Linked DNA regions of Homo sapiens. The protein of the gene in region 2 interacts with the protein of the main gene of each other region in a pairwise test. Each region holds a gene or a part of one and is shown on either strand. Other genes may lie near its edges.

Region 1 (5,198 bases), on a different chromosome or scaffold from region 2:
GGCTGTAGAGTAAATAGTATAGTAAGGGAAATGTCCCTCCCTCCCCCTACACACCTTTTTTCCAGTTATCTCTTCTTTTTATTGATTTGTCTGCCTCCAGGACCCTAGGGAGGTGTTTTTGTCCTAAGGAGGTGAACTCCTGAGGGTCCTATTGAAGAAATAGGGCGACCTATCCACCCAACTTCCTCTTTACTGATATCTTCACATGCTTATTGCCTTATTCATTTTCTAAAGTGTGCCAGCGTCTTTCAGAAGTCAGCTAAATTAGTGCAGTTGCTCATCCATCAGACAGTTTTGTTATAAAATATGTGGCTATAAAAGATTGAATAAATTTATTAGGTTGTAATTTCATTAATGTGTATTTTATATTTAAATATTATTTTAAAAAATGTACAGTGGTTATCTGATCTTGGCCCAGGCCTCTTCAATTTCCAGTGTACCTGATGTCTCTTTATCAACTGTTTTTCTGAGGTGTATCTCAGCCTGGCCTTGGGTACTCCCCTAGGTAAGAGTCATAATTCAGGTTAAAAGAGGTAAGAAAAAAAAAAGCTTTTGGCTTTTGTAATCTTGTTTTTTTTTTTTTCTTTCACATTAGCAAAAGACTGTTGAAGTAGAGAGCATTTTGCCCAGCTCACTCGGATTCTTTGCTGGCATGCCTTCAGTTTCAGTTGTCATCCAGAGAAGTCAAAGGAAATGCTGCTTGGGGATGAGCATGTAATTACGATTAACTTTCCCTACTTCGTTGTCTCTTTGTGGTAAAAGACTGTCACAAGTGCTATTCAAACTATAGGTATTTTTTTTTAGATTTCTAAAAAGTATATTTTGTCTCTGAGGGCCTCCTGTCTTTGGACTAGTTTGTCTTTTTCCAGACCCCAGAAAGGCTGGGCCACCTTTTCTTCTTTGAGCAGGTTGGCAACAGTGGTCACAAATAGCAGAGGAGCTGAGATTCTAGAGAGCTATCCTACCACTGCTTCTCAGATGCCAGTGTGGAAACAGCCTCTTCTTTTTTGTTGAATTAGCTTGGAACAGCTCTCTAATCTCTGAAGAGTGAGGAAAAACTGTGTTTTTAAGTTTCAAGGCTAAGGCACTGTGTTCTCTTTTCTCCCTGTTCCTGCTGCTGTTCTCCCCCAACTCACATGAACGCATACTTAACTTTCAGTGTATGTGGACAGTAGGGTTGCTAAATTCATGTCAATATTTGTGGCATTCCTACATGTTAGGCATTTGGTTTACATTTAACTTATGAAACAAATGTTTAGGCTTTTATAAGCCAGGAACTTTTCCAGATATTGGCAATAATGAACTTTTCAGAAGTTACAGTCTAATAGACAGGCAAACTATTCCCATAGCATGCTATAGTAGCAACATGTAAAATGTGCTGTGGAACCACAGACTATTAAAAGCCTAAGTTTTGGGAAATCAAGAAAGCCTTAGGGATGTTTAGTGATGAATGCATAGGTTAGTGGAGGAAACAACTTGTATCAACTCAATTTGAGAAGCTTAGCTGTGAATAAGAGGAGAGAGAAATAGATTTTAGTAGGGAGAAGTTGGGTCAGGAAGAGTGTGTGTGTGTGTGTGTGTGTGTGTGTGTGTGTGTGTGTGTATTTAAAAATCCAGTCAATGGAAAAAGGTTGAAGATGCAGGCAACGTCCTTGTTTTGTCCTTGGCAAGTTCCTCTTATGGTTGCAAGATGGCTGCCACAAGTTCAAGTGTCACAAGAAAATATGACTTAAGTTTCCTGGAAGAAGACACACTTTTTTTTTTTTTTTCCTAGGTTGTTGCTATCAGTGAGAAAAATTTTTCCCTAAAGCCTCATAGCAGATGCTACCTTGTCCCTCTCTCCTCTCTTCATAGGTCAGCATTGCACACAAGCCAGTGCCTAAATGAGTCAAGGTCAAGGGGAATAGTACCGCTGTGATTGGCATAAATGGATCGTGATTCATCTTAGGTTGTGGCTGGGGTCTACTTCCTTGGAAGTTGATGGCCTCGGGTTGAGAGTAGATACGTGAGCACAGTCAGGGTTTGGTTAGAAAGTGAGGGGGTGAATGGTGTTGTGCAGTTAACAGTGACATCCTTGTCTACTAGTTCTGCCACCACTACACTTAGATACAAACTTCGGAGGAGAAAAAGAAAATGTGCTTGCCTTTGGATTTGGAATTTTAGGTGACTTTTTTTCCTCTTATATGCCATTTCCTTCTATGATCAAGTAGCACTTTTACAATCAAATCAAATCAATGGTTTATTTAAAAATTATTTAAAAATTGAAAATGCCAATTTTGTCAATAAATATATATAGAAGAAATAATTTTTTTTTTCAATGCTTTAAACATTTCAAAAGTTCCCTGCCATTGTCTTATTCCTTTCAGGGAGAGGAGAACATATAATTATATCTTGTAGTTTCTGATTATGTGTATACTAAGAGGACTACTCTGTCCCTCAGTCCATAGTGCACACCCACCTGTGGTCTCTATGGCTTGCACTGAGTGCTGAGGCCAGCCTGGCTCAGATAGAATTGTTAGTTCATTGGCTAGATGGGTCAGGATTCTTTAGAATGCAAATTCTTGAATCAGGAGTACAAACAGGAACATCTTCCCTTTTCTACACACTCATTCCCCTCCTCGAAGGGAAAGCTGTCCCGTAGTTAGCTTATTCGTCATTCTTTTCAGACTTTAAAATTAATGCCACCTTAAGTTTATACAGTATTCTTGTAGTACTCCTAACTTTTCTGTTTTGCTGTATGTGTACATTGTAGAAAGATTAAATCAAGCTAATTAACATGTCCATTACCTCACTTACCTTTGTGTGTGTGTGTGTGTGTGGTGAGAACCTTTAAATCTACTCTCTTAGCAATTTTGAAATACAGTAGGATCCCCACCCACTGTTTTACTTTCAGCAGTTTGTTACCTGTGGTCAGATGAAGTCCAAAAATATTAAATACAATAGATATTTTGAGAAAGAGACAAACATCACATTCACATAACTTTTATTACAGTATATGGTTATAATTGTTGTATTTTATTATTGTTAATCTCTTACTGTGCTTGATGAAAAAGCATAGTATATATATAGGGTTTGTTACTATCTGCAGTTTCAGGTATCCACTGGGGTTCTTGGAATGTATCCCCTGTAGATAAGGGGGACACCTGTGTATGTTGTTACAAGTATGATCACTGTGTAAAAGCACTTTTGTATTTCATTCTTGTTCCTTCTCAATCGCAGGTCTGGGTGCTTTCTGTGCTGTGAAAGGCAGACAAATAATGTAAATCCTAAACACTTGAGTGTTGTAAATTTACAAAATGAGAATTGCTCAATGGTTGTTTCTTTTTGAGAGTAACAAATAGACTGTGATAAATGGCCAGAGTAGGCTTCTGAACTGGTATTAGTTTTTTGGATAGAATTTAGAAAGACTTGTACTACCAATATAATTTTTGTCTCAGATAAATGCAATAGTATTTCCCTACTCAGTAGTTCCTCAGATGCTATTTAAACTGAGCTATATTTCAGCTTTATTTATAGGCTGCAAATTGTTCCTTATTTGGCTGAATCTTGTGGTTATGATATAATGAAAAGTAGTTACTGAGATCACTGGTGCAAATCTGTAGCTTGGAAATCCTCATTTTAGAAATGATTATTTTGACTCCCAAGTTAAATAGTAAAAAATAGACTTATGTTTTTAGTTTTAGCTATGTATATTGAGAAACTGTGGCCCTACGGTGGCTGTTAGGGATTAGTGGATTAGGTTGTTTTTAAATAAGACATTTCAGTTTAGTATCTCTACTTGAATAAAACAGTTTCAAATTTGTGATTCATATGATATACTGATTGCCCTACGGTAACTTCTGTTTTATTTAATTAAAATTGTTAACATTCTTTTTTATACTCTTAAGCACCTCCCTCCACCCTCACCCCCCTTTTTGACTCAAATTTTATTGTGAGTTGGTGTATAGTTAGGAATTTGAAGAGCACTTTTTTTGTTTATTTTATCTTTTCGGTTACTATGCATACTATGTGTGTCAACTCTTAAACCTGCAGGGGGTCATTTTGGCCATCAACTAGTTTTAGGGCTTTCGCCTCCTAAAGAATATGAATTATGGTTGTAATTTTTACAGTTTAAAAAACAAGATGGCATATGAAGAATCTTTATTTCATTATGAAAATAGAACATGGATGCTTAATCCTCTGTATTGAAAGTAACTTGTAGTGAAATACTTCCTAGTGTTCTCTTCTTCTAGTTGTCCATATGTAGTATGTATAACTATAGACCTTGATGATTTAAGTTGAGCACAGTTTAGTGTCAGGTTCCTTTCAGTGATGCATGAGATTGGTTATATGATCTAGTGAGTGTTATTTAGAAATTAATTCACCAGACCCGGGTGTGGTGGCTCATGCCTGTAATCCCAGCACTATGGGAGGGCGAGGCAGGCAGATCACCTGAGGTCAGGAGTTCGAGACCAGCCTGGCCAACATGGTGAAACCCTGTCTCTACTAAAAATATGAAAATTATCTGGGCGTGGTGATGCTCGCCTGCAATCCCAGCTACTTGGGAGGCTGAGGCATGAGAATTGCTTGAACCTGGGGGACAGGTGTTACAGTGAGCCAAGATTGTGCCACTGCACTCCAGCCTGGGTGACAGAGTGAGACTCTGTCTCAAAAAAAAAAAAAAAAGAAAGATTCACCAAATATTGATTAATAAGGGGAAATTTGTTGTTCCACAAATGCCCATTTAATCTGTTTGTGTAATAGTGTTCCTTCTCATCACACACAGGATACTTGGGGTATTTCTTGAACTCCTTGTTCTTCCATCCCTCCTCAGTTTTACCTATTCTTCCCCCACATACCACTTGAGTCATGTAACATGAATTGAAATGTAATATTTGGACCTGGGAGCAGAGACTTTTTCAGTCTTTAAATTATTGCCCTTCTCAAGCCTTTAGTTTCCTTATCTGTAACAGAAGCGGGTCATCCTGGATGAATGTGCTTTTTTAATTGGAAATTCTTTAGGTCTGTGAAATTAGCCATTATTTTGGGCAGACTTGTGCAATTTTAATATTTTCATTTTATCTTGAGATCCTTATTAAGCTTAACTGAATTTTTATTATAGGAAGTGTTAAGCCAGGTAATTTACAGAAGATCACATGGTTGATGATATCAGTAGAGCGTTAATCTGATTATCCACAGCTGCTGGTAGCCTTAAAATA
Region 2 (5,198 bases):
AGTTTGAGACTAGCCTTGGCAACATAGCAAGACCCTGTGTCTACTAAAAAAAAAAAAAATTTTTTTTTTGATTAGCTGGGTGTGGTGGGATGATTGCTTGAGCCCAGGAGTTTGAGGTTAACAGTGAGCTGTGGTTGTGCCACCACACTCTAACCTGGGTTGATAGAGTGAGACCCGTCTGTTTAAAAAAAAAAAAAAAAAAGAAAAAAATTAATGTATATAAATTCAAGACCATTATCAAAAATCAAATGCAAGTGAGTTGGATTATCTAAGCTCTAAGCATGTAAAAAACTTAAGATTACAGCAGGTTACTTACTATATGCATTGAACTACTGAATTCAAATTTCCCAGTTTTTCATTTTAAGATTTAATGATTTTCTTTACTAATAATAACCTATATGCTATGATTTGTAACTTGCATTTTACAAAGCAAGTTAAATGTGGAACTTGTGCGTTTGTTTACCTTAGGATTAGGCTTTACTGGCATCACAGCATTTTTCAGTAATTACTAGATTTCTTAGCATCTTGGATTTCATTGAAAAATGCTCGTTCAGAAGTAATGTATGAAAGGACTTGCAGATACAATATAAAAAGTGAGAAATCAGGGATTGTGAAGGTTTTTATTCCCAAAAACCTTGCTAGTTAAAATAAGACTTGCTGTAACATAGCGTGTATAGTTTAGAGTTAGAGATTTTATCCATTAGGATTTATTAAAGGAAATAATGTCTATTGTAAATTTAAGATAGGTTATGTGAGAGTATAATTAAAATATTTTTTTGTGAAATGAGTTATTTTTATATAGTCTGTGATCTGTCTGAAAACATACAATCTTGTTTAAAGTAACCAAAAGCAAAAACCTTAAGGTACAATCGTTAGGGTTTGTTTTTTGGTTTTTTTTTTTCTGGAGACAGAGTTGCCCAGGCTGGAGTGCAGTGGTGTGATCCTGGCTCGCTGTAACCTCTGCCTCCTGAGTTCAAGCGATCCTTCTGCCTTAATGTCCCAAGTAGCTGGGATTACAAACATACGCCATCATGCCCGGCTAATTTTTGTATTTTTAGTAGAAATAGGGTTTCACCAAGTTGGCCAGGCTGGTCTCAATCTCCTGCTCTCAAGTGATCCACCTGCCTCGGCCTCCCAAAGTGCTAGGATTACAGGCGTGAGTCACCGCGCCTGGCCCATAGTGAAGTTTTTATTTTGTCATTTAGCTATATCTTTGGAAAAATTTGGAAATGTATTTTCATCTCCCTAACTTTCAAATAAAAGTTACTATTAACATTTTGAAGGAATTAGTAGGGATTATTTGGTGATAATGTCTTTTTTTAATATAATTTAGTAACGTTTGAGTCTTTCACATTGAATAATAGACTGGCAGTTGAGCAACATGGTCTTACCGTTGTTTAGATGACTTTGAAATATGCTTTGAGTTAGTAATGTTACAAATTACTAACATTAGAAATGTTGTATAGAAAGTAAGTATACAAATTAACAGTCGCTTTTGATACTCATGTTAACTTTGGAAGACAACAGATAGTATCCTTATTTCCAGTTTTACAAATGAGGGAAAATTTAATAAAATTGAACAGAGAGCAACAGCTCAGTCTAGAAACTAGTTCTCTAACTTCGGTAACTTGTATGCTGTCAGAGATTAAACACTTGGGTATTGAAAGCTTATTTGGTGGTGGTTACTATGGCATGAATTAGTTTGAAGGCATTTTTGCTTTTATCCTGCTAATATCTTCACCCTTCTTCCCTCAGTGGTTACAACTTGCCAAATTATAGTACCTTGATAAGATGTATTTGTGTAGTTCTAGGCGCAGTTATCACATCAGTGTTTTATTTTCAAAAATAAGTTTTGACATGGAAGCATGACACAGATTTCACTAGGAAAAGTCCATTTTCTCTTAATCCCTCATATTTAAAGACTTGTTTACGAAGTGGAAACATTGCATAGAATATAATACACTAACGTTTGGATTTTAATAATACGTTTGACTGATGTTAAGTATTTTTTGTCTAGTAAAAATAGTGACACATGACCTTTTTTCATTGATTTATGCTTTGTGATAATACTATGCAGAAATGTTTGCATTGGATTTCCATTGGTCAATTTAGAAAACACAGGAAACATACTCTGTTTCAAGAGAAGTGGAATAAGATTGAAGGAGTAGCAGTCTTAATGTTTCAACTCTTCATTGTTTTTTTTTTAATTTTAGAAAACAGTGTCTGTGATGTAAGCATCTGTGCATGTAAATTGTTAAATTTGAACACTAGTACCAAGTCATTTGTCTTACGCTTCTCATAATCACATTTTAACTTTTTATATTTTTAGAGAGATGGTTATTATGTATTGTTTATAATTTAATGGTATTTCTATTTTACAATCAGTATTTTGGAATGAGTTCACTTAGATCCTTAGATCCTTAAGACAGTCTTAATTGAACTGTTTTCTAGTTGTGCAGGAAGTATTTAAAATTTTTGGTGTAACATACTTGGGGTTTTGGTCTGTAATTCACAGAAAATTTATATATTCTAATTTGTGTCTATTAAGCATCTGTTACCTTATTCTGTTGTGCAGAATTGTTTGGGGGGTAGTGCATCATTTTGTTATGATGCTGGAAAGAGTGAAGATGGAAATAAGCTGGGCATTTGGGATGCTATACCAGGCACTAGATATAACTCATTGTCAATTTGATAATTACAAAACCAATTTTTGTGGGGTTGTGTGTGTGTGTGTTTTGTTTTTTTTTTTTTTTTTTTTTTTTTTAAGACAGTCTCACTCTGTACCTAGGCTGGAGTGCAGTGGCACGATCTCGATCTCACCTCATTGCAACCTCCACCCCCTGGCAAAATCAGTTATTTGGTTATTTGGGGCTTGCAAATATATTCTATGAACAGTCCTTTTCAGGATTTGTATGATGCTTTATAATTTTCAAAGGGTTTCTATATTGTTTCTCATCTGACTCCACAGTAGCTCTTTGAAATAGGCTGATCAGTATTATTCCTGTTGTACTGATGAAATTATAAAGTATTTAGCCTACTGTTGTTGAAACTGGAAAGGAAGTCTCTTCACATAAAATTTTATCTCTGCCTTCAAATTATACTCCAAGTATAACTAATTCTCACTATTTTATCATTTTAGTTCTGGCTACCACCTTTTCTTAGCTTGAATTCTGCAAGAGCCCCCTAGTGTTCCCGAGTCCATTTTGCTTTGTATGATTGTTTCCCCACACAGTAGCCAGAGTGATCCAGTTAAAATGCCAGTCACCTCACATCTCTCTCAAGCTCACGGCCCTCCAGTGACTCCCTGTTTCTTAGCAAATCTTATAATAGATCCTGTGTAATCTGGTGTCTGGGTATTTTTTCAGCCTCTTCTACTATCTTCCCCTTGTTTGTGCTACTCTCTCCATACTGGCCCTGCAGGCAGAAGTTTGTTCCTGTCTCAGGGGCTCTGCACATTATGTGCCTTTATGTTTCTCCTACTGTGCTCACTCACTTCAGTAATGTGTCTGCTTAAGTGTCACCCTCTCACAGGGCCTTCTCTGCCCTTGCTGAACACTCTGAAACAGTCATTCTCATCATTGTCTTTCCTTGCCCCTGCGTGTTCCTTCCTTGTATGAAGGTGACCTGTTATGATTTACTTATAGTCATTCTGCTATAACATGACATGGGCATTTCTGAAAGTCACGGTGCTGTGCAACATTGCACCAGACCAATTTATGGGGAAAATGGAGTTAGGAGCACAGTAACCAAAAACATTGTCAGTGACACATTTTAAAAAGATAGGAACCTAATAAAAATTGTAACTTAGTTTTACACGTATAAAATGGTTAAAGAATAACACCGCAATAAATGGCACTTTACCTTGACCAAAACCTGACTTCTTGTGAAAGTGGCCACTCATTGGAAGGGTTGCAGTTCATGAATTACTGTAAAGTGATGGATGGAAGATACCTGATACGAGACAAAAACTTGTAACATCAAATGTGGATGGACCTGACTCATAATTCATGATGAACTAAGATAGCTATTAGATGTTTGAGCTGTGTCTGCCTTGTAAATTCCTGTGCAGCTTGATGTAGCTAGTGTTTCTCACAGGTGAAAATACACATAAGTGGGAAATTTGCTGGTTTCTGATAGATCAGTAGCCTTCAAACAAATTTGTCTATTTGGAAACAAATGTTATAGCAGAACTGACTGTATTTTAGTTTTTGTTTGCTTGCCTTTTGTGGAATATAAGCTCCACCAGAAGAGGAAGTGAGAGTTTTAATGTTTTTATCCACCTTGTATTCCTGTTACCTTGAATAGTGCCTGAAACTTTATAGCATTTAACTAAATGGATAGATAAAAAAAATTTGGATTGTTATAATTTAAGGGGAATGAAATTATAGTATTTTGGATTAGCATTCCTCAAACTTGAATGTGTATACTAAGCACCTGGAGATACTATAGTCAGTAATTCTGGGGTGGGTCCCAAAGATCTGCCTTTTAACAAGATCTCGGGTGATACCTACACTTCACTAGAGTAACAAGGTTCTATAGCAGCACCGTCCAGTGGAAATATGTTGGCCACAAATGCAAACCATATGTGTACTTTTCTAGTAGCTTTGCTTAAAAACTAAAAATGATTCAATTTTAGTATATTTTATTTGACCTAATATATCAAAAATATTTCAACTTGTAATTGATACCTTAAAAACTATAATGACATACTTTACATTCCCTTTTTGGTACAAGATCTTTGAAACCTAGTGTCTATTTAACATTTACAGCACATTTCAGTTTGGACAAGCCACATTTCATGTGTTTAATTGCCACATGTGAATGATGGTTATTGAATTGGACAATGCGGTTCTGAGGAATGTGATCGCCCTGTTGGCCTGTCTGGCTTTTACATATATTTTTATTTCTCTAAGGAAAGTATTTTGTATGCTTGACTTCTGAAATGCCATATTTATGCAAAGCAAGATTGGAGTTAATGGGTCCTTGAGCTATATAGTGCTTCTTGTACTAAAATTTTGTTAGTACACGCTCATTGTAGAAAAATTAGGAAATGCAGAGAAAAGGGGAAAAAGAAAGTCACCTTGTATCTTCTCATTTAAGAGTTAATCACTAGTTTTCATAGAAAACATTCTCATGCCATAAAATAATTAGTATTCTGTAATCTTTCCAGAATTGGTTTCCTTTGTTTTGTTTTTTGT
Region 3 (5,198 bases), about 52 Mb from region 2:
TAATTTAGCATTACTTGGTAGCAGTTGAAGATCAAGTACTGATAATCGTGCCATTTGATTTGGTTATGTGATGATGTGATTCTCTTCACTTGGGCCCAGATGTCTGAGTGAAGAAGTGGAGCAGGCAGACCTTTTAATTGAAGCAGGATTGGGGTAGCATGATTAGGGAGCTGAAGATATTGGTAAGGGAATTGTTGAAGGGATGGGTCATGGAGTACAAGCTGGAGAGAGGAAAGTTCCAGAATGGCTTCTGGACTGATTTAATTTATAGAGAGCTTCTAAGCTAAATTTAAGCCACTTCCATAGTTCTACCAGATAATACTTAACCCCAGAGTCTTGACTCAAATTTACATATTTAAAAAGGGGAAAGAAGCCTATTATTTGAGTATGTGGATAGAAAGAAAAATATAGACCTGGCAAATAGCTTCTCTGACTAACCTCCTATCCCTGATATTGAGGTAGAAAACTGCAGGCCCCTTAGAAGGATAGGGCTGTTGAAAACTCTACTCCTTCTGAGTCTTCATTTTCAGTCATTGGCTTATTCTTGAAGGGAGGTTAAAAAGTGTTGAGTTGGGTGTCAACTGTCATCCAAACAGGCCAGGTGCTTCCTGCAGCAGCCACAACTGTGGATGAGGAGCCATCCTTCCTCTTACAGCTCCTATAGCTGGTATCTGTTCCTGTCTATCAAAAATAAGAGAATTCCCAGAGGTTCTCCTTCCCCTAGGCAATTACATCGTAAGTGGGAGATACATAACTCTCTTCGGCTCGACTACTTTATCCTACTTATGCATAATTTGGCAATACTAGCAATAACAAGTTTCTCTAGCCATATTATGTTGACCGGTATGAACTAATCCACTGTGCATTGAATCCTAAGTATTGTAGTAGGGCGGAAGAGAAAATAATATTATACAGGAGATGTTATGGCCAGTTAGCGGAGTGGATTGGTGTGCAGAAATAGATAGGAGAGATCGATCAACAGAGAAAGGCTTGAGAGAGTGTGGCTGAGATGAAGAAAAACAGAGAGGCCTCTGGGTGCCTTCTGAGTCATGTAAGCTGGAGGTTGGGAACTCTGGTTATTTCCTTGCTGGTTGCAAAAGCAGTTGTCCTCATAGTCAGTACCACTGACTTGAAATTCCTTGATATTTTAGGCACTCTCCACAAGCCTAGTTTTTTGTGAACAGGGAAGTATTTTTATTGCCATTTTCTATGTAAGAGCTTAGTTTTGAAGTAAGAGCTTTTTTGTTTATTTGTTTTGAATGGCTTTCAGTGGTTTTGCTCATGTGTGAGGAAGGGGATTAGGTTTTGGAAGTTTCTTGAAAATGTCAAGAAGCTGGTTGTTTTGATCAATCTGACTGTTATTTAACAAATACACTTTGCATTATTGTTGAGAGATTGGAGTTATTTAACTTCCTCTACCAATGTCTGAAAGTTGATTGAAACTGTTTCTGCGTTTCAGCTACCTACCCCATCACTTTTATCTTAGTAGTGATAATATAGGAATACTAAGAAATTACCTTTAAAAGCTTTTGCAAATAAAATATCAAGCACTTTATTATATCTTTACTTGTAAAAATTTATTATTTTAGAATGCATTGTCAGATAGTAGACATTTTATGCTTTACAGGCCAAGAGGCAAATTTGATGATATTATGAAGGCATTATGGCATATTATGTAGGAATAACAAGAGAGAAAATGAATTTTTGCAAATGTTTTATTGATGAAATTCAAATAATAATCACTGAATATAAATTTTTTATTAGATAGGTTTACTATTGAGAATTTAAAAAAGTTTTTAAAAGATAACATTTCACTTGGTTGAAGTTCAGCGTTAGTGTGGTCTATCATCAAAATCTATTTTAAAATATTTATCTGCGGGCCGGGCGCGGTGGCTCACGCCTGTAATCCCAGCACTTTGGGAGGCCGAGGCGGGCGGATCACAGGGTCAGGAGATCGAGACCATCCTGGCGAACGCGGTGAAACCCCGTCTCTACTAAAAATACAAAAAATTAGCCGGGCGTGGTGGTGGGCTCCTGTAGTCCCAGCTACTCAGGAGACTGAGGGGGAAGAATGGCGCGAACCCAGGAGGCGGAGCTTGCAGTGAGCCGAGATCGCGCCACTGCAGTCCAGCCTGGGCGACAGAGCGAGACTCCGCCTCAAAAAAAAAAAGTTTATCTGCTAATGCTGATCTGTAATGAGGTTTTATGCATTTCATCCTTGAAAATGTCTTTTTACATAGTTACTGTCAAAAGTTGCTATCAGTCTATGTGTGTATAATTTAAATTAAGCATATTCATTCCTTAGAAGGTATTTCTAGAATTTTGTTTTTCTCTTGCTGTTTGCCTTTTAGCATGCATTACTTTGTAGAATAGCCACTTCCAACTGAAGGTTGATGGAAGCTTCTTAATTGCATAGTTAAATGGATTTCAGAATATGGAAATTTCCTTTGCACTTACGTTGAGGCCTTACAAACACTCTGGAATTGTAGTTCGAGGTTGGAAAATACATCCACTGACAATTTGTTTGGGAACGGAGATCTAATATCCTGTTCTAGTTTTGACAGCACTGGACGTGTATAAAGCAGCTTTACGTTACTTGTGATTCAAACAACATGAGCTGTTGTTGAAGTGAGTTTACTGCAGTGTAAGTTTTACATATGAGTGATGTTTTGCCATGTAATTTTAAAATGAATTAAGAAACATTATCAAGTCTGCAGCCAAAGCTAATTTCCAAAGCCATTTAATGTTTGATAATAGTGGTTGGGAGTATTTCTTCTCATTAAGAAAAATTTAAATCCTGTTTACCAATAACTTACTCGAAAAAGAAACCAAGAAAACAATCTTATTTATAATAGCTTCAAAAAGAATAATATACGTAGGAATAAATGTAACCAAGGAGGTGAAACATCTATACCTTGAAAACTGTAAAACACTAATGCAAAAAATTGAGGAAGACACAAATAAATGGAAAGATATCTTGTGTTCATATATCAGAAGAGTTAGTATTGTTAAAATGTCTATACTACCTAAAGTAATCTGCAGATTCATCTCAATCCCTATCAAAATTCCAATGGCATTCTTCACAGAAACAGAAAAACCCAATTCTAAAATTTGTATGGAAGTACAAAAGACCCTGAATAGCCAAAGCAATCCTAAGAAAGAAAAACGAAGTTGGAACTATCAAATTACTTGATCCAGAATTATATTACAAAGCCATAGTAATTACAACAGTATGGTATTGGCATAAAAACAGACACATAGACCAGTGGAACAGAATAGAGAACCCAGGAATAAGCCCAAGTATATACGGTCAACTAATTTTTGACAAGCCCTGCAAGAAAACACAAAGGGAAAAGGATAGTCTCTTCAATGAACGGTGTTGGGACAACTGGATATCCACATGCAAAAGAATGAAACTGGATCCTTGTCTTCCACCATACACAAAAATCAGTTCAAAATAGATTAAAGACCTAAATGGAAGACCTGAAACTGTAAAACTCCCGGAAGAAAACATAATGTAGAAAAAGCTCCTTGACATTGGTCTTGGCAATAATTTTTTGGGTATGACACCAAAAGCACAGGCAATAAAAGCAAACCTAAACAAATGGGACTAGGTCAAACTAAAATGCTCTTGCACAGCAAACAATCAGCAAAACAAAAAGGCAGCCTATGGATTGGGAGAAGATATTTGTGAACCATATATCTGATAAGGTCTGATAAGGAGTTAATCTCCAAAATATATAAGGAATGCAAACTCAATAGCAAAAAAAAAAAAAAAAAAAAAAAAAAAAAGGATCCCAATTAAAAAATGGGCAAAGGACCTAAATAGACATTTCTCCAAGGAAGATATAAAAGTGGCCAACAGGTATATTATCAAAAGTGACAAGTAATGTTCAACACCGCTAGTCATCAGGGAAGTGCAAATCAAAACCACTATGAGATACCACCTCGCCCCTATTAGGATGGCTGCTTTTTTTTTTTCTTTTTCGGACACAGAGTCTCGCTCTTTCACCCAGGCTGGAGTGAAGTGGCGTGATCTTAGCTCACTCCAACCTCTGCTCCCTGGGTTCAAGCGATTCTCCTGCCTCAGCCTCCTGAGTAGCTGGGATTACAGGCACCCGCCACCACACCTGGCTAATTTTTTTTTTGTATTTTTAGTAGAGACGGGGTTTCGCCATGTTGGCCAGGCTGGTCTTGAACTCCTGACCTCAGGTGATCCACCCACCTCGGCCTCCCAAAGTGTTAGGATTACAGGCATGAGCCACCGTGACCAGCCTAAGATGGCTGTTATCAGAAAGGGAAGAGACATGGCCGGGGGCAGTGGCTCACACCTGTAATCCCAGCACTTCGGGAGGCTGAGGCGGGCAGATCACAAAGTCAGGAGATTGAGACCATCCTAGCTAACATGGTGAAACCCCGTCTCTACTAAAAATACAAAAAATTAGCCGGGCGTGGTGGCGGGCGCCTGTAGTCCCAGCTACTCAGGAGGCTGAGACAGGAGAATGGTGTGAACCCAGGAGGTAGAGCTTGCAGTGAGCTGAGATCGCGCCACTGCACTCCAGCCTGGGTGACAGAGTGAGACTCCGTCTCAAAAAAGAAAAAAAAAAAAAAAAAAAAAAAAAAAGAAAGGGAAGAGACACACATTGGTGAGGGTGTGGAGAAAAGTGAACTCTTCTACACTGTTGATGGGAATACAAATTGGCGCAGCCATTATGCAAAATGGTATGGGTGTATTTCAAAAAATTAAAAGCTACCATATGACCCAGTAATTCCTCTTCTCAGTATATATTCAAAGGAAATGAAACCAGCACCTTATAGAGACTACTTGCACTCCCATGTCCATTGCAGCATTATTTACAATAGCCAAGATTTGGAAACAACATAAATGTCTGTCAGTGGATGACTGGATAAAGAAATTGTGAGCTGATCACAGTGGCTCACACCTGTAATCCCAGTACTTTGGGAGGCCGAGGCCTGAGGATCACTTGAGGTCCAGAGTTCGAGACCAGCTTGGGCAACATAGGGAGACCTCATCTCTAGAAAAAATGTATAAATTATCCAGGCATGATGATGATGGCATGCACCTGTGGTCCCAGCTACTCAGGAAGCTGAGGTGGGAGGATTAATTGAGCCCTGGAGGTTGAGGCAGTGCCACTGCACTCCCACCTGGGTGACAGAGCAAGACCCTGTCTTGAAAA
Region 4 (5,198 bases), on a different chromosome or scaffold from region 2:
GCTGCTTATGGTGGATGCAGTGGCTTGAGTGAAGTGTGCGAGAACGTGGCATCCCTCCACGCGTATTCACAGCTCTCTGTTCCGACAGTGGAGCTGAATCTGAGTACTTGTGTGTGCATGGCGTGTAGGTGTGGGAGTCCCTGCTGGCCAGGCCTGGAGTGGGAGGGAGAGGAAGTAGGGAAACTGGCGAGGGATCCATAGTGAATCTTGGGAGTGTGTGCATCTGGAGGTGCGTTGGGCACATTGTGGGGAGTTGGCTGCTTGGGAGCCATGTGAGTTCGGGGGACAGCGAGTGTCACGGTCAAGTGCAAGGAGATGGTCTGAATGTGAGTGATTTGGGGAGTGGGAGAGACAGAGTTAGTTTCTGCGTGGGTTGGCTTTTCTTTCTTTTTTTTAAATAATATTATCACTTTTTGACACGGAGTTTTGCTCTTGTCACCCAGGCTGGAGTGTGGTGGCGTGATCTTGGCTCACTGCAACCTCCGCCTCTCAGGTTCAAGCAATTCTCATGCCTCAGCCTCATGAGTAGCTGGGGACTACAGGCGCATACCACCATGCCTGGCTAATTTTGTATTTTTAGTAGAGCCGGGGTTTCACCATGTTGGCCAGGCCAGTCTCAAACTCCTGACCTCAACTGATCCACCCACCTCGGCCTCCCAAAGTGCTGGGATTACAGGCGTGAGCCACCGCGCCCAGGCTTGGTTTTTATTTCTAAGAGAATATACCTGTGTGTTGGGAGTGTATACAGATTGTTTTTGAAAGAATAGTATATGTGTGTGCCTGAGTCAGTGTGTTGTCTTAGGTTGTATTTCTAAAAGGAAAATGTAAATGTTTTTACTGAGTTGTATATTTAATAGGAGAAAGTGAGTGCGTGTTCTAAGAGGAGAATGTATATTATGCTGTCCTTTCTTTCTTTCTTTTTTGACTGGGTCTTACTCTTTCACCCAGGCTGAGTGCAGTGGCACTATCATGGCTCACTGCAGCTTCAACCTCCTGGGTTCAAGCAATCCTTCTACCTCAGCCTCCAGGTACACCATCACCACACCCAGCTAATTTTTTTATTTTTATTTTTGTAGGGATGGGGTCTCACTATGTTTCCCAGGCTGGTCTTGAACTCCTGGGCTCAAGTGATCCTCCTGCCTCAGCCAAAATCCCAAAGTGCTCGGAGTACAGGTGTGAGCCACCGCACCCGGCCTACATTGTGTTTCTAATGAGGGAGTGTGTGTGTGTGTGTGTGTGTGTAACTGTATTTCTGGGAGGGTGTGTGTGTGTACCGTCTTTTTTTTTTTTTTTTTTAAATGAAGTCTCACTCTGTTGCCCAGGCTGGATTGCAGTGGTGCGACCTTGGCTCACTGCAACCTCCGCCTCCCGGGTTCAAGCAATTCTCCTGCCTCAGCCTCCCAAGTAGCTGGGACTACAGGCATGCGCCACCATGCTCTGCTATTTTTTTTTTTTTTTTTCCAGTAGAGACAGGGTTTCACCCTGTTGGCCAGGCTGGTCTTGAACTCTTGGCCTCAAGTGATTTACCCACCTTGGCCTCCCAAAGTGCTGGCATTACAGGCGTGAGCCACTACACCTGGCCCCATGTTGTATTGGAGAGAAGGGAGAGTGCGTGTGTGTGTCAAATTGTATTTCGGAGAGGAAAATGTGTATGTTGCATTGTGTCTTTAAGAAGGGAGGGTGCGGGTGTGTGAGGTGTTTCTGAGGAGTGTGTTTGTGTGTATATGAGGACCCCAGAGGCACCACCAGCTAAGTTTCTGTGACCTTGTCACCCACATACAACCACATGAAGTCCCATAGAGGGGGGCCCCCACCCACTATGAGCTGGGCTTCAGACTCTCAGCTGTCACATGGCCAGTGTGACATACCTGGACCACACCTATCACACGTGTGTCCCGACAGGCCCTGGGCTGGCTAAGCTTGTCCGATGGAGGAGGGCGGAGCCCCTGTTCCCCCAGGGTCCATCTGTTGCCTGGGAGCCAACACATGGCCCCATCCTCATTCCCCCCAACCTAGAGGCCTCCTGGGCTTCTGGGGGCCCTGGCCCCTCGGCCCTCTCCTCCCACCCCACCCACCCCCAGTGGTCTGACTGGTTCCCGACAAAAACACCCTAAGAATGAGCTCACGCAGAGGCTGCCGCCTCCACACGCCCCGCCTCACTCTGCCGGCAGAGGAGGGTGCCTCTGGTCCCAGGTCACACGGCCAACCGGGAGCTCTGGGCCAGGGGATCCAAGGGCCTTGGGGTGGGGAAGGCTGGCCAGGTGAGCTGAGGGCAGATGGGGGACCCCAGGCTAGCTGTTTGCTTTCTCTTGGTTAATTACACATAGGATTTGGGAACTGTCCTCAGGGCAGAACCCTGGGTTGGGAGGACAGACGAAGGTAGACAAGACTGTTCCAGATGAGAGCTGGCTGGGATGGGTGTGGAGACTGGGATGGAGAGGGTGTGGAGGCAGAGGGCTGGCCAGGATGGGTGGAGCAGGGAAGAGCCAGGATGGGGAGAAGTTAGGGGTCCTGATGGCCATTATGGGAATAGAGGCTGGGGGCCAACTGACTGGCCCGGGCAATGATTCCCCAAACCCCTCACCATTGCTCCCCAGGAGCAGCAATGTCTGTGCAGGTAGCGGCTCCTGGAAGTGCAGGGCTGGGCCCAGAGCGCCTGAGCCCTGAGGAGCTGGTGCGGCAGACGCGGCAAGTGGTCCAGGGGCTGGAGGCGCTGCGGGCAGAGCACCATGGCCTGGCTGGGCACCTGGCGGAGGCCCTGGCGGGACAGGGCCCGGCAGCCGGCTTGGAGATGCTGGAGGAAAAGCAGCAGGTGGTGAGCCACTCGCTGGAGGCCATCGAGCTGGGGCTGGGCGAGGCCCAGGTATGAGGGGGCCAGGTGGGGAGCTGGGGGAAGGTCAGCTGAGGGCGGAGGGAGGGCCAGGCATGAGGGGGACAGGTATGTAGGGGACTGGGAGAGGGTTCACTATTGCAGAGGGGCACACTTTGGGAGGCTGAGGTGGGCAGATCACTTGAGGTCAGGAGTTCAAGACCAGCCTGGCCAACATGGGAAAACCCCATCTCTACTAAAAATACAAAAAGTAGCTGGGCATGAGGGCTCCTGTAATCCCGGCTACTCAGGAGGCTGAGGCATGAGAATCGCTTGAACCTGGGAGGCGGAGGTTGCAGTGAGTGGAGATCGTGCCATTCCACTCCAGTCTGGGTGACAGAGAGAGACTGTCCCAAAAAACAACAGAAAAAAGTATGGCAGAGAGGCACATCCGGGGCAGGGGGAGGCCTAGGGGAACCAGGCCTGGGAAGGGGAGGCTCCAGGTCAGAGATGGAGTCCCTTGGCAGCTTTAGGGGGTCCTTGTGTGTGACAGGGACCCCTGAACCAGATGGCATTCTTCAGTAAACTGTGGGTCCTAGGGCAAGTTTGGGGGTAAAATCAGAGGGGCCCCTGGGAGCCTCTGAGGGCACTGGGGCCATGTTGGCAGAGTCTCTGCAGAATCTGGGGGTGTCGTGCATAGTAGTGGGGTGCTACGGCCTGACTCGAGGCCTGGGCTGGGTCAGGGGCCGTCTGGCAGGGCAGGAACCAACCTCGACTTGGGACCCCCACCCCGGGCAGGTGCTGCTGGCCCTGTCGGCACATGTGGGTGCACTGGAGGCAGAGAAGCAGCGGCTGCGCTCGCAGGCCCGGCGGCTGGCCCAGGAGAACGTGTGGCTGCGGGAGGAACTGGAGGAGACGCAGCGGCGGCTTCGGGCCAGCGAGGAGTCCGTGGCCCAGCTGGAGGAGGAGAAGCGCCACCTGGAGTTCCTGGGGCAGCTGCGACAGTACGACCCACCGGCGGAGAGCCAGGTGCCACGGGCAGGGCGAGGCGGGGGGTGCTGGGCCCTTCATAGAGCCCCACAGTCCCCCAGACCCTCCTTAGAATCCCACAGTCCCCAAGATCCTCCTTAGAATCCCACAGTCCCCCAGACCCTCCTTAGAATGCCACAGTCCCCCAACCCTCCACAGAGCCCCCAGACCCACCAGAACTTCCACAGACGCCCCCACTAGCTACTCCACGAAGCCCCCGAGCCTCGCCAGACCCCCAGGGGGCCTCTGACGCTCGTGACCACCACCTCCCTCAAACCTTGAGATAGGCTGGGTGCGGTGGCTCACGCCTGTAATCCCAACACTTTGGGAGGCCGAGGCGAGCAGATCACCTGAGGTCCGGATTTCAAGACCAGCATGACCAACATGGAGAAACCCCGTCTCTACTAAAAATACAAAATTAGCCGGGTGTGGTGGCACATGCCTGTAATCCCAGCTACTCCGGAAGCTGAGGCAGGAGAATGGCTTGAACCCAGGAGGTGGAGGTTGCTGTGAGCCAAGATCGCACCATTGCACTCCAGCCTGTGCAACAAGCGAAACTCCGTCTCAAAAAAAAAAAAAAAACAAAAAAACAAAAACCTGAGATAGAGCCAGGGCCCCGGTCTCTGAAACAAGCCCCCACCACCCCGGCCCCCCACTTTCCTGTCTCTGCAGCAGTCTGAGTCCCCGCCTCGCCGAGACAGCCTGGCCTCCCTGTTCCCCAGCGAGGAGGAGGAGAGGAAAGGTGGGTGTTGGGAGTACATGCCACAGAGGATGGCAGGCCAGGGTGGGGAGGGGGCTCTGAGCTGCAGGACCCCAAAATCTCTGAGCCAGGGGATGGGGAGGTGAGGGCAGGGTGAGGAGGACCCTGAATGTGACAGTGCAGGTGAGGCTGGGAGCCACAAAGACAGGGTAGCCGCTATGAGCCTGGCAGGCCCCGTATTCACATCCCACAGGGCAGGTGGGCTGCCGTGTTCCTGTCCCGAGGCCAGGATGCATCCCACCAGCTGGTTAGATGCTAGTGACTCCTATCTCAGAAGTTAGCGTGGGGGCCCATAGTCCCAGGGGCCAGTTAGGCAGTCCGGCAGTTCTGAGGCACGTGTCCCCTCATGCGAGGCTGGAGGGGCAGGAGGCTTGCAGTGACCCAGAGCCCACCCCACCCCACCTAGGTCCTGAGGCCGCAGGAGCAGCAGCTGCTCAGCAGGGTGGCTATGAGATCCCTGCCCGCCTTCGGACCCTGCATAACCTCGTGATCCAGTACGCGGGGCAGGGCCGCTATGAGGTGGCGGTGCCTCTGTGCCGCCAGGCCTTGGAGGACCTGGAGCGCAGCTCGGGCCACTGCCACCCTGACGTGGCCACCATG

What was found. Proteins that work in one complex are often made in the same cells at the same time.
Region 1: the proteins of WAC (region 2) and BACH1 interact in a two-hybrid assay, tested with the Homo sapiens proteins (one large-scale study listed by BioGRID and IntAct).
Region 3: the proteins of WAC (region 2) and DYDC1 interact in binary tests that used the Homo sapiens proteins (3 or more experiments, as listed by UniProt).
Region 4: the proteins of WAC (region 2) and KLC3 interact in binary tests that used the Homo sapiens proteins (3 or more experiments, as listed by UniProt).

What each region holds. Positions count from the first base shown.
Region 1 is NC_000021.9:29,304,609-29,309,806, forward strand, and holds part of BACH1 (transcription regulator protein BACH1), read left to right. Parts: intron 1-595; exon of another isoform or gene 596-714; intron 715-5,198. UniProt on the Homo sapiens protein: Transcriptional regulator that acts as a repressor or activator, depending on the context. Binds to NF-E2 DNA binding sites. Plays important roles in coordinating transcription activation and repression by MAFK.
Region 2 is NC_000010.11:28,538,683-28,543,880, forward strand, and holds part of WAC (WW domain-containing adapter protein with coiled-coil), read left to right. Parts: intron 1-5,198.
Region 3 is NC_000010.11:80,345,871-80,351,068, reverse strand, and holds part of DYDC1 (DPY30 domain-containing protein 1), read left to right. Parts: intron 1-5,198. UniProt on the Homo sapiens protein: Functions as part of axonemal radial spoke complexes that play an important part in the motility of sperm and cilia. Plays a crucial role during acrosome biogenesis.
Region 4 is NC_000019.10:45,342,937-45,348,134, forward strand, and holds part of KLC3 (kinesin light chain 3), read left to right. Parts: intron 1-2,597; 5' UTR 2,598-2,605; coding exon 2,606-2,863; intron 2,864-3,607; coding exon 3,608-3,838; intron 3,839-4,510; coding exon 4,511-4,580; intron 4,581-5,004; coding exon 5,005-5,198. UniProt on the Homo sapiens protein: Kinesin is a microtubule-associated force-producing protein that may play a role in organelle transport. Plays a role during spermiogenesis in the development of the sperm tail midpiece and in the normal function of spermatozoa.